Linked DNA regions of Homo sapiens. The protein of the gene in region 2 purifies or fractionates together with the protein of the main gene of each other region. This does not show direct contact. Each region holds a gene or a part of one and is shown on either strand. Other genes may lie near its edges.

Evidence for each region. Proteins that work in one complex are often made in the same cells at the same time.
Region 1: the proteins of PTH2R (region 2) and LSR purify together in Homo sapiens (affinity purification with mass spectrometry; one large-scale study listed by BioGRID and IntAct). This does not show direct contact.
Region 3: the proteins of PTH2R (region 2) and MZT2B purify together in Homo sapiens (co-immunoprecipitation; 2 studies listed by BioGRID and IntAct, with this or other methods). This does not show direct contact.
Region 4: the proteins of PTH2R (region 2) and HACD2 purify together in Homo sapiens (affinity purification with mass spectrometry; one large-scale study listed by BioGRID and IntAct). This does not show direct contact.

What each region holds. Positions count from the first base shown.
Region 1 is NC_000019.10:35,255,502-35,259,001, forward strand, and holds part of LSR (lipolysis-stimulated lipoprotein receptor isoform 2 precursor), read left to right. Parts: intron 1-3,443; coding exon 3,444-3,500. UniProt on the Homo sapiens protein: Probable role in the clearance of triglyceride-rich lipoprotein from blood. Binds chylomicrons, LDL and VLDL in presence of free fatty acids and allows their subsequent uptake in the cells.
Region 2 is NC_000002.12:208,444,792-208,448,291, reverse strand, and holds part of PTH2R (parathyroid hormone 2 receptor isoform 1 precursor), read right to left. Parts: coding exon 3,405-3,500; intron 1-3,404. UniProt on the Homo sapiens protein: This is a specific receptor for parathyroid hormone. The activity of this receptor is mediated by G proteins which activate adenylyl cyclase. PTH2R may be responsible for PTH effects in a number of physiological systems.
Region 3 is NC_000002.12:130,185,262-130,188,244, reverse strand, and holds part of MZT2B (mitotic-spindle organizing protein 2B), read right to left. Parts: intron 1-2,983. UniProt on the Homo sapiens protein: Required for the recruitment and the assembly of the gamma-tubulin ring complex (gTuRC) at the centrosome.
Region 4 is NC_000003.12:123,529,554-123,533,053, reverse strand, and holds part of HACD2 (very-long-chain (3R)-3-hydroxyacyl-CoA dehydratase 2), read left to right. Parts: intron 1-3,500. UniProt on the Homo sapiens protein: Catalyzes the third of the very long-chain fatty acids (VLCFA) elongation four-step cycle (condensation, reduction, dehydration, and reduction).

The sequences.
Region 1 (3,500 bases), on a different chromosome or scaffold from region 2:
AGCACTTTGGGAGGCTGAGGCAGGTGGATCACTTGAGCCCTGGAGTTCAAGATCAACCTGGACAACAAAGCAAGATCCCATCTCAAAATTAAAAAACAACACCAACAACAAAAAAACAGTGGCTTAGATGCCTGATCATTAGGGTAAGTCGTGTCCTCAACCCCTTCACATCTGCTCTGAAGGTCACCATATCCGGAAGCCTTCCCTGGCCTCCTTGTTTAAAATGGCACAGCCCCCACTCCACGCCTGGCACTCTCTGCTGTCCCTGATTCGTTTTCTCCATACAGCTTATCTTTGTCTGATATGTGACATAGTTAACATTTTATATTTGTCTTTCTTTCCTAGTTAGAATCTGAACTCTAGAAGGGCAAGGGCAAGGATTTATAACTCAAAGGTTCCGGGCTTAGGCCTCTTTTATATTCTTGATTTTGAGGTTAATTAAGAGCTCAGGCCTAGCGAGGTGGCTCATGCCTGGAATCCCAGCACTTTGGGAGGCCCAGGCGGGCAGATCACTTGAGGTCAGGAGTTCCAGACCTGCCTGGCCAACACAGTGAAAAACCTGTCTCTACTAAAAATACAAAAATTAGCCAGTTATGTTGGCAGGCGCCTATAATCCCAGCTACTCAAGAGGCTGAGGCAGGAGAATCGCTTGAACCCAGGAGGCAGAGGCTGCAGTGAGCCAAGATCGTGCCACTGCACTCCAGCCTGGGCAACAGAGCGAGACTCCATCTCAAAAAAAAAAAAAAAATTAAGAGCTCAAAGAGTTTGTTTTCATAGGCAGCAGAATGAGAAAAGTTTACAAAATAGTTTAAATGACAATAAAGTCATTATAGATTAACATAAATAAAATACCTTTTATGAAAAAAATAATCATTTTCTGAAATCAGACAAAACATTGTGAATGAGAAGGTGGCATGGTTTTATTTTTTTGCAAGTCTCCGAAGCCTGGCTGGATAGAAGAGCCTGGCTTCTCAGAGCTGCTTCAGTCTGTTGTGATATCTATTGTATGTCACGTAGCCTCTGGAAAACTCCACAGTTAGTATTGTTGGGAAAATAACTTTGACCTCAGGATCTCCTGAAAACGTCTTGGGGAACCCCAGGGTCTAGAGGCTGCAGTTTGAGAACTGTTGCTGTGGTATCCCAGGTGTCTCAAATACTGCCTAGAACATAGGTGGTACTCAGTAATTATTGTTGAAGGATGAATGAATGAATGAATGAATGAATGAATGAAAGAAAGAAAGAAATGTGTCTTTGAATCCAGCCATGTGCCCAGAATGATGAGACAGATGACAAAAGCTAAGGGACTTTAGCATGAGGAGAGGGGGTTCGTTTCCTTTTTTTTCTTTTTTTTTTGAGATGGAGTCTCACTCTACTGCCCAGGCTAGAGTGCAGTGGTGCAATCTCAGCTCACTGCAATCTCTGCCTCCTGAGTTCAAGCAATTCTCCTGCCTCAGCCTCCAGGGTAGCTGGGACTACAGGTGCGTGCCACCATGCCTAGCTAATTTTTTACATTTTTGGTAGAGATGGGGTTTTACCATGTTGGCCGGGCTGGTCTGGAACTCCTGACCTCAAGTGATCCACCTGCCTCAGCCTCCCAAAGTGTTAGGATTACAGGTGTGAGCCACCATGTCCGGCCAAGAGGGTGTTCATTTCTGCTCCTTGCCAGGTATTGTGTCAGGCACTGGGGACCCAGCAGTGGCTGAGACAGACAGGGCTCTGCCTCACGGAGCCCACATTTTCACCAGGCAAAGGATGGTCGGCCCCTAAGCTGGGAGATAAGACTTCAGCAGTTGGGTGGGGGAGCCGTGGGAGAAGCCCAGCCCACAGGGGGACAGTGCAAATCTAGAACCAAGGCGATGGCAGGGGTGAGGCTGGCACGGTAGCTAGAGACCACGTCGTGCCAAGGGCCTTGGGGACCATGGGACTATGGGACCTTAGGGAAGGCGTCTGGAATGCTGTAGCCAGACACTGTTGCAAGGAGGATTTTTCTGTAGACATGAGGCCTTCCTTATGAAGAAAGCAAGGGTTCTTTCATTCCTGGGGGTGCCAGGTGCTGTGGACTGCAGCACGCGTGGTTGCTGCCGTCACAGAGCTGTCATGCAGGAGGGCAGCGCGTCCTTGGGAAGGTGGCAGGCAGGTCAGGCTAGGAGGAAAGAGGCCGGGAAGCTGAGGGCATTTCCTGCCCGAGATGCCCAATGTAGCCTACTTCTGTCCCCAGTGGCTTAAGGCAGAGTTGCCTGGTAGGTGCCCTGGTCCCACCCTGGTGAAAGGCTGAAGGTATTTAATTAGTGCCTGAGAAGCAGAGAGGAAACAGGATGTGCCAAAACACTTTGATGGATGGTAGAGTTAACAGGCTCCTTGCCTGCAGCTGCTTCAGACAAGAGCGTCCCCAAGCCCTGGGCCTGACCTGGAATGTGGGGATGGAAGGGGAGGGGGAGGAACCAAGGCACTGGGAGGGTAAGTCTCTCTCTCCCACATAGACACACCCACTCCTTATGGGTGCCTGGGCATCTCCTGGTACCTAGAATCTGGCCTGTTTATCTCCACACCCATCCCTGGGGTCTACACTAGGCCCTGTGGGTGGCAGTTCACATCAGGGGAGTTCTGACTTTGGCTCTGAGAGGTGGTTCAGAGATGGCTGTAAGTTGAGAAGCACAGACTGCTGGGTGTGGTGGTTCACGCCTGTAATCCCAGCACTTTGGGAGGCTGAGGTGGGGGTGGATCACCTGAGGTCTGGAGTTCAAAACCAACTTGGTCAACATGGCGAAACTCCATCTCTACTAAAAATGCAAAAATTAGCCAGGTGTGGTGGCAGGTGCCTATAATCCCAGCTACATGGGAGGCTGAGGCAGGAGAATTGCTTGAATCTGGGAGGCGAAGATTGTAGTGAGCCGAGATTAGTTCGCACCATTGCATGCCAGCCTGGGCAACAAGAGTGAAACTCCGATTCAAACAAAAAAAAAAAAAAGCTGGGCATGGTGGAGTGCCTGTAGTCCTAACTACTCAGGTGGGAGGATTGCTTGAGTCCAGGAGGTTGAAGTTGCAGTGGGCTATAATTACACCACTGCACTCCAGCCAGGGCCACAGAGTGAGACCCTGTCTCTAAAGAAAGAAAAAAAAAAACAACCTCAGGCTCCGAGGGCACCATTACTGCTCTATACTGAAGAGCTGTGCAGCTTTTCCAGACCCGAAATGTCATCCACAAAACAGAAGTGATAATGGTCCTGCCTCACAGACTTCTTGCAGTAGTCCAGGTGTTTAGAACGGGGTGTAAAAGGCCGTGTGCCCTTGGTAGGAATCTTTGCATATGCATTTGATCATCTGCAGCCTGCCCAGCCCACTGCTTGCCCCCTCCTGGGTGTGCTGGGAAGGGGTCTTTGGCCCTCCAGGGGTTAGGTGCCCCAGCCTCCAAGGTGCCCTCACGCCTTTTCATCCCGACTCAGATGCTGACCTGACCTTTGACCAGACGGCGTGGGGGGACAGTGGTGTGTATTACTGCT
Region 2 (3,500 bases):
GATCACAACAAGAAAACAAACAAAATAACCTAAAGGGTCAGAGTGCATGCATCTTGTGTGGGAGACTTTAACACCTGTCTCTGTGTTTAAACACTTACTGCCAAGTGGATGATCAAAAAATGTTTGCTGGATTAAGATATTTTACAAAGGGAATAAAATGGGAGTGTGGGACTGTTTCCTGATTATTTTCAGGGAACATATTATGTGAAAATATTCTATGTAAGATGGTATTACTAGGATAGGTGGTTTTATATGATGATATGTACATACTGGTGTTTCATCTGACAGTTGAAAATTAAGGATGGCTACTAATATAGAAGCAAATTACCATATTTAGTAACAATAAAAAAAAGAGATACCTTTTACATACAGAATTAAAATAGAGGAAAATGTGTAGTTGAAATAAAATGGAACTAAGAATAAAGCACCTTATTTATGGGAAAACTGAGACAAGGATGGGGAAAATAATAATGTGCTTGGTTGAATGAAAAGAAACAGTTATCATTAGTATTCACCTTTATTCTCTATGCATCTTGTTTTATAATAATAAAATGTAAAAACAGTTATTTTAAATATTTGTCCTTAATTTAGTAAAGGTCAGATATGACACCTATTCTTCTTCAGATTGTCATTTCCTTTCCTTCCTATTATTTATTTATTTATTTATTTATTTATTTATTTATTTTTCTTTTTGTTTTTTTTTTGAGATGGAGTCTCGCTCTGTCACCCAGGCTAGAATGCAGTGGCGCGATCTCAGCTCACTGCAAGCTCCACCTCCTGGGTTCACGCCATTCTCCTGCTTCAGCCTCCTGAGTAGCTGGGACTACAGGCGCCTGCCAGCACGTCTGGCTAATTTTTTGTATTTTTAGTAGAGGCAGGGATTCACCGTGTTAGCCAGGATGGTCTCAATCTCCTGACCTCATGATCCGCCCGCCTCGGCCTCCCAAAGTCCTGGGATTACAGGCGTGAGCCACTGCGCCCAGCCTCCTTCCAATTTATTTTTAAGAATCATCATAATCAGATTGCACATGGTCGCTCACATCTGTAATCCCAGCACTTTGAGAGGCCGAGGCAGGAGGATTGCTTGAGGCCAGGGGTTCAAGACCAGCCTGGGCAACATAATAAGACCACATCTCTAACAAATAATAAGAAATAAAATAATAAAACATTTAAAAAGAAAAGGATCATCACAATCAATATAAGTGTAACTCCACACATTACTACAATGTGACTAACAGAGTTCTGAGTATTTATCTAGCTGAAAAGAGCTTAAAGTTATAAACATTTGGGTCCAAATGAGTAACAAAGGAATTTAAGCAAGTTCTCTGCTCTAATGAAGCCAGTAAATGGCATCATTGGAAGTAAGTATAAAATTGGACTCGCTCTCAGTTATTCTAGCAAAGTATCCTGCAAGGCATATATAATGTTTTTGATCATTTAGAAAATGAATTTAGAAAAATGAGTCAGATATATAAATAATGTTTTTAAATCAGTCTCTCAGTGTTGAGATAAGAGAAAGACAATCCATAAATCAAACAGATTTTGATATGTACTTCATTCAGTGATAGCTGTGTTTTAGGAGCAGAGAATCTTAAAAGAATACTACTATTATTTTCATTATATATGCCCTAGACTAGAGTATATTTTTAAAGAATGGAAATGCAAAGAGAAAGTCAGAAGACAGACTAGCTGTAGAACCATAATTCCATGAAGAATAGTTATTACTCTTTTGACTTGTGGCTAATTAAGTGAGCAAAATGTGGCATGTAAAATGCGTTCACAGACAGTTTCCATGAAAAGTCAACCGGTTTTCATGTGTGTTCTCAAACTATTTCACGAAATGAAGATTTCTATTGTAGTTGTCATTTCTATGCCTAAACTTTTGTGGGCAAATTAATAAAAGCTGTAAAGGAAGGTAAGAAACCATACTTGCATAGAAGCTCACTAGCACCTTAGCTTTTCTTCACATTCTCTTTTTCATAGAAAGATTTGTGTTTTCTGAGATTCGGTGGGACAAACTCCTAACTGTAAGGAGAGACAGACTGAGTGATAAAGCCCAAATAAAGAGTTAATAAGGAGGCTTGCACCAGGTAGCTATCAAGGCATAAATAAAGAGAAAAAAAGAATTTATTAAAAATGTAAGCAATGATGAAGAAATTTGAAAAATAAAATATAACCCAAATAAACAAATGTCTACATTCATTATTGAATTTTCTATCAACACCTTTTCCAACTCCTAATAATTATGTGGGTTCACAGATATAATTTTGATTTGAAGGAAGGCAAACTACCACAAATTGTCAAGAAAATTTCCAAAGGATCCTAAAAAAGCAAAATATTATCTTTTTTATTTTCAGTAACTGCTAGTCAAAGATAAGAAAGAGCCTTAAAACAGACGAGCTGTCTACAAAAATACAACTTTAATTGTGATGATTATTTCATAATAAATAAGTTTAACAGTAAATTGATTTTCTTTGTCTTCTTAAAGGTTATTAATTAGCTAGCAGAAAGTTCAGCATTCTTTACTTCACATTTCAGTTGTTAAGAAAAAAAGTTAAGGCAAAATAGGCAAAGGCATATTCTTATTTTGGAGAGGAAAAAAACCTTCAAATTTAGTCGTGAGCTACTTAGTGAATTTTTTTCCTATGCTGAGCACCTCCTAATTTAAATATTAAAATAGCAATTGAGATCTGCAACTGTTAATCTCCAACCTCTTCTCAATTTTCACCACATATGAGTTTTAATTTCCCTTAATTTTTAACAAGCAAACAATTTCTTTTCTCCATGTCATGTTGAGTCAGTGTCTAATCCAGTAATCCCCCTTGTACTGCTAAATCATTTTTGAAATGAGAACTGAATACTTTTTTAATTACTTATGCCAGAAGTAATTTGAATAATTTCCTTCTAAAACACATGGTAAGTCCACATAATTAGTTTGTAATTTGTATTTGTTAAATACAGTCAGGATGGTCCTACAAATTCATTTCTGGCATTCTCATCATATGACCTAGAAATACAAACCAAAAATATATCATTATAGCTTAGAAATTCAAAAATAAAAAATTTTAAGATGAAATTATTGATAAAGCAGAACACTGACATTTAGTTGTACATGTGTATGGCTTACAATGAGTTCTCTTATATTTCCTCCAAAGAATCCTCTCAAGAATCTGGCCTAAGAACACTATCCACAAATAACTTTAAAAGTTTGTCACCACTGGGAGAATTATAGACTTGATCTTAATTATTTTTGTCTAAGAATAGAACAATAAAAGGGAGATAAAAAATAAGAATGGGAGGGATTGTTTCAGGAAAATGGCTGTAGGGATGCTAATGATGGGCATGACAGAATGTCATCAAATGCATCATCCAGTTTGAAAGGAACAGAGATATAAATGTCTTACCCCAGCCTATCAAGATGAAGCCCCACAGGTATTTGGTGTCCGAAAAGAAAGCCACAAAGATGAGATTATGCAGGTAGAGACCTTCCACCAGGATCC
Region 3 (2,983 bases), about 78 Mb from region 2:
AGCTCCCCACAGCACGCAGCATGGCAGGCCGCAGACTTGGGCCTGACTCAGAGTCGGCTTCCCTTCAGCTTGCTGCCATCTGAGCTTCCTCTCCTCCCCTCAGCAATGACCCAGTCCCTTCTGGAAACAAGGATGAGAGGGAAGCAGAAAAGAGCAAATAATGCTTTTTTTTTTTTTTGAGTGGTGGGGGAGGGGGGTTTAGAGACTGAGTCTTGCTCTGTCACTTGGTCTAGAGCACAGTGATGCAATCACAGTTCATTGCTGCCCCAAACTCACGGCCTGGAGGGATCTTCCTGCCTCAGCCTCCGATGTAGCTGGGACTACAAGCATGGGGCCACACCTGGCTAATAATGCTTATCTTTAAATCTGACAGGGTTGACAAACCCTGGAAATGTGAAACCAACATAACTTTAAGCCATAACTGATACTAAGAAAATCCTGGAAATCTTCAGGAATTGTGCGCTCTCAGGGTTAGTGGGGAGCCCTGTTCAGGCCTCCTCACTTTATGAAGGATGAGAAGGCCCAGAATAGAATGGCCTGCAGTGCCTTGCAGTGGGGAAACCAGCTTTGCTTAGCCCTGCTCCCTCGGGAGGGGCTACTGAGTCAGACGGGCTAGACAGTGGGATTGAACCAAGTGTGGCTGCAGGTTGGGGTGTGAGGGCGGGGTGACTGATGCCCCTACGCCTGGTCCCTGGAGGGCCCTCCTAAACGCCAAAGATAGTCAATGACCATTGAATGTTGAAAACAGCCTGGCTCAGCAGGGGTCAGTGGCTCATGCCTGTAATTCCACTACTTTGGGAGGCCAAGGCGGGAGGATCCTTTGAGGCCAGAAGCTAGAGACCAGCTGGGACAACACAGTGAGACCTCCATCTCTACAAAAAATTAAAAAATTAGCCACGTGTGGTAGTGTGCACCTGTAGTCCCAGCTACTCAAGAGGAGGTGGGAGGATTGTCTGAGCCCACGAGGTTGAAGCTGCAGTGAGCTATGAGTGTGCCACTGCACTCCAGCCTGGGTGACAGAACAAGACTGTCTCAAAAATAAATAAATAAATAAAAAGTAAAAGAAAATGCAGAATTAGCTCAAATACTTTAATCTAAAATATCCAACGTATTATTTCAATACGTAATCAGTACATAAGTTATTCATAAGATGTTGCATTCACCTCTGTTCTTTTTCTTGTTTCTTTGTAGAAATGGGTGGGGTCTTGCTATTTTGCCCAGGCTGGTCTCAAACTCCGAGCTTCAAGTGATGATCCTGCCTCAGCCTCCCAAAGTGCTGGGATTACAGGTGTGAACCAATGCCCAGCCTCATTCACTTTGGGGTTTTTTGTTTATTTTTGAGACAGGGTCTCACTCTCTCACCCAGGCTGGAGTGCAGTGGTGCAGTCACAGCTCACTGCAACCTCAACCTCCCAGGCTCAAGCAATCCTCCAACCTCAGCCTCCCAAGTAGCTGGAACTACAGATGTGTGCCACCATGCCCTGCTAATTTTTGTGTTTTGTAGAGATTGGGTCTCCCTGTGTTGCCCTGGCTAGTCCTGAACTGCTGAGCTCAAGAGATCCAGTAGCTGTGGACTCCCAAGGTGTGGTGGGTTTTTTGCATTCCCTTTTGTACCGGTCATTTGGCATCTGCTGTGCATACCACACGCAGTGCAATGACCATGCCAGCCATGTGTGGCTCAAGGTTCCTGTATCAGGCAGCACAGCTCAGGTGAGATGGCTTCCACACTCCAAACGTCATCTTACATGCATGCTCTGGACAACTTTTAAAACGTATAGTTTCTCTAAACTTAAATAGAACGCTTGACTGAATTTATTTTTCCCTCAATGACTCCAGACTCTCACCAAGACAAGCATTGCCCCTCTGTGCTTCTGGGGTTTTCTATTTCCCCTTCCCTGTGGGTATGAGTGAATCTGGTGGTGGTTGTCCCCACAGGCTGTCTGGATGGCTGGGGGACAGGCATCCAGAGGACCCAGGGTGCCTGCTGCAGCTCAGAGGCAAGCTTGAGAGGGCCTGGCCCACAGCCTGGAGAACTCCACACCCGAGTCCTGTGGGAAACCTATGGCCTCCATGCCCCCCAGCCGGATCACTCCAACAACCCCCCTTATGTCCTCCACCCCAGATTCTGCCATTACCAGGGCAGCCGGAGCTCTGTGTGGTCAGATGCTGTAACATGTGGGCCTCAGAGAGCTCTCAGCATTCCATCTGTGGCCTCTGCTTCTCACTCAGCAGCACACTCCTGGTGTGGCCCCACATCTGCCCCATTCCCCTCCACCTCCTCCTCAGGTTCCACTCTATCTCCACAGGGCCTCGGTGCCCTCATGTCCTGGCTTTCTGCCACCCAGCCTACAGGACCTGGGCTATGCTTCCAGGACAGAGCCCTCAAGGAACAAATGACCCTGAGGGTCCCAGCACTCCAGGCCACTCCTGTCCTTGGGTAAATTCTCTCGGAGCCCCCATTCGCTCACACAGCACCCCCTAATCCTCCTGGCCCCTCTATGCCTGCATTTCCAGTGCCACAACCCTCACATACATCTTGACCGTGCCCCCCCACCTGCCTCCTCCCGCCCCCGGCCTACCAGCACCTGGACAGCGCTCTGCCTCACCCACGCCCTCCCACTGCCCCAGCTCACACGTGTGGGGCTCTGCCGACCCCCCTCCTGCTGTAACCCTTGTTACCCCCCTGTGTAACCCTTGCTGCTCTCTGGGCTCTGAAGCCTCCTCCCATCTCCATTGCTAGCGGTTTTTCTTTTTTTTTTTTTTTTGAGACAGGGTCTTGCTCTGTTGCCCAGGCTGGAGTCCAGTCACAAGCTCTTGGCTCACGGCAACATCCCCCTCAGGCTCAGGCGATCCTCCCACCTCAGCCTCCCAAGTAGCTGGGACTACAGATGGGCGCCACCACCATGCCCACCTGGCTAGTTTTTTTTTTTTTTTGAGACGGAGTCTCGCTCTGTCCCCCAGGCTGGAGTGCAGTGGTGTGATC
Region 4 (3,500 bases), on a different chromosome or scaffold from region 2:
GGTTTCTGGCTACCAAGTTAAAGAGGGTGACAGAGTTATATAATTCTTATTATTGGAAAGGAGCAAACCTTTCTTAACATTGAGCTCTAAAACAAATTTCCTACCTGTATGAGAGGCTTTGAGTGATAGGGTGGACATTATACTGTACACCATTCCTACGGCAAATAAGGTAATATTAATACTGTTTGACAGTCTTTTTTTTTTTTTTTTTTTTTTTTTTGAGACGGAGTCTCACTCTGTCACCCTGGCTGGAGTACAGTGGCACGTTTTCGGCTCACTGCAAACTCTGCTCCCGGGTTCAAGAGATCTCCTGCCTCAGCCTCCCGAGTAGCTGGGATTACAGGCGACTGCCACCACGCCCGGCTAATTTTTGTATTTAGTAGAGACGGGGTTTCACCATGTTGGCCAGGGGCCAGGTTGGTCTCAAACTCCGGACCTCAGGTGATCTGCCCACCTCAGCCTCCCAAAGTGCTGGGATTACAGGCGTAAGCCACTGTGCCTGGCCTTAGTTTCTTATGAAATTCACCTGATAATAATGATAAGCCCAACTTGGTGATGCCAGCTCTGTTCAGAGCTGAGATAATGCCCATCTATGTGGCCATCTGTTCTTTAGCTTAAATTCAGGGATAGAGCTCTTGGCCTTTTGACTGGTCCAGTAGAGCAGGCATTTCGAGATTGTGCTGTCAGGTGAGGGCCTGAACTGCTGTTTGCTGGGTGACTGGTTGAAGTAGTTGTCTATGCTACAGAGAAACTAAGTGACAGTTGGTCTGAATGACATGATTTGGGGAAAATTAAGGTGTCTAAGTAGGCGAGTTCACTGGATAGAGAACGGTAGAAGCACCTGCAGGCAAGGCCAGAAACATCTTGACATCTACTTCAATTAGAAAGTATTGATCAGCTTTTTGTTCACTACTTATTAAGATTTAAATTTACTGCCAAAGGTGTGCTAAGACAGGCACTTTTGTATATTGCTGGTGGGAGTATAAATTGGTAATAAACTTCTTAGAAAGCAGTTTGGCAATACATTTCAAGAGCCTTAAAAACATTCATGCCATTTGACCTAGTACTTCTACTTCTGGGAAAATGTCCCAAGGAAATAATCCTTTTTTTAAAAAAAGGTCTAAGCCTCGAATTTTGAGTGTTATTTGTAATGCTTCATTACTTCATTTATAGTATCAAGAAATTCGAGGCAATTTAAATGTCCCACAGAAGGAGAATAAACAAACATATTAACTCAAAGGAATATCATGATTTAAGCTAAAATCTTTTGAAGAAGAGAAGGAAAATTCTTAAAATGTTAAATGAGAAAAGCAAAAACAATATAAACAGTAGAAGTTAAACTGGTTTAAAATATGCTTAGAGGAAAAGACTGGTGAGAAATACACTAAATAAATCGTTGTGTGTGTGTGTGGATACTAAAGCATTTTTAAGAAAAACACTGTTGACCAGGTGTGGTGGCTCACTCACACCTGTAATCTCAGCACTTTGGGAGACCGAGGCAGCGGGTGGATGACCTGAGGTCAGTTTCAGATGACCTGAAACTCCGCCTCTAACAAAAATACAAAAATTAGCCAGGCATGGTGGTGCATACCTGTAATCCCAGATACTCAGGAGGCTGAGGCACAAGAATCACTTGAACCTGGGAGGCGGAGGTTGCAGTGAGCCAAGATTGTGCCACTGCATTCCAGCCTGGGCGATAGAACAAGACTGTCTCAAAAAAAGAAAAGAAAAGAAAAACACTGTTAATTTATGTATGGCATTTTTGAAAGGGAGACAAATACAAATTTATATTCCCTAGAGAAGGGTGATTTATAGTGGAGAGGGAATAATTAATAAACCTGTGTTCAGCTGAATTGCAGTTTTTGCCCCTAGACCTTCTAGTTCCATTTGTTTAAAGTTACTCTTAGCGCCTGTAATCCCAGCACTTTGGGAGGCTGAGGCGGGCAGATCACGAGGTTAAGAGATCGAGACCATCCTGACCAACATGGTGAAACCCCGTCTCTACTAAAACCACAAAAATGAACTGGGCATGGTAGCGCGTGCCTATAATCCCAGCCACTCGGGAGGCTAAGGTAGGAGAATCACTTGAACCCAGGAGGCAGGGGTTGCAGTGAGCCGAAATTGCGCCATTGCACTCCAGCCTGGGCGACAGGAGTGAAACTCCATCTAAAAACAACAACAACAACAACAAAAAGTTACTTTAGCTGGGCATGGGGGCTCACGCCTGTAATCTCAGCATTTTGGGAGGCCAAGGCAGGAGAATTGTGTGAGCTTAGGAGTTCGAAACCAGCCTGGGCAACATAGCAAGACGTTGTCTCTACAAAAACTTTAAAAAATTACCTGGGCAGGCCGGGCGCAGTGGCTCACGCCTGTAATCCCAGCACTTTGGGAGGCCAAGGCAGGCGGATCACAAGGTCAGGAGATCGAGACCATCCTGGCCAACATAATGAAACCCCATCTCTACTAAAAATATAAAAATTAGCCGGGCATGGTGGCTTATGCCTGTAACTCCAGCTACTCGGGAGGCGGAGGCAGGAGAACCCCTTGAACCAGGGAGTTGGAGGTTGCAGTGAGCTGAGATCGCCCCACAGCACTCTAGCCTGGCGACAGAGCAAGACTCCGTCTCAAAAAAAAAAAAAAAAAAATTACCTGGCACACCGTGTGGTCCCAGCTACTTGGGACGCTGAGGCGAGAGGATGGCCTGAGCCCAGGAGTTTGAGGCTGCAGTGAGAGATATGATGGCGTCATGTACTCCAGCCTGGGTGACAGAGTGAAATCTGGTCTCTTTTTTTTAAAAAAAGAAATCCTTTAATTCTCAGTTCTTTTCTTTTTACTTTTTGTTTGTTTGTTTGTTTGAAATCAAAGAAATCAAAGGCTTCCTCTATATGGGTGCTTTCCTTACAGGTGCCTAGGTAGTTATTGCTTCAACCTCATTAATCCCCCTCTCCCAGCAAAATGAAACTTAACATGTTAATAAGCAAAATATGATTTTCAAAATAGGTCTATTATAATAGAAATATGGAAGAGTACAATTCTGCCATTTTCCTAAATATTAAACATTATTTTACAAGAATGGCTTAAAACATAAGCCTTGTTTTGCAGTATATGAGCTTTCCATCTTCAATATATTTTTTTTTTTAAATTGGTTTCTAGAGGAAATCCACAACTGCATATTGTCCCATCTAAGTGTGATCTGGCTAAATATATTCACTAAATGTTTGACTTACTAATTAGCTCTGTTAGCTGTATTACACAATTATATAACCAGGTTTTATAATTCATTTATACATTTATTTATGTATTTATTTACTTTTACTCATTTATTCTGAGACAGGACCTCACTCTGTCACCCAGGCTGGAGTGCAGTGGCATGATCACAGCTCACTGCAGCCTCAACCTCCCAAACTCAAGCAATCCTCTTGCCTCAGCCTCCCTAGAACTGGTACTAGAGGCGTACGCTACCATGGCGAGCTAATATGTTTTTTATTTTTAGTAGAGAC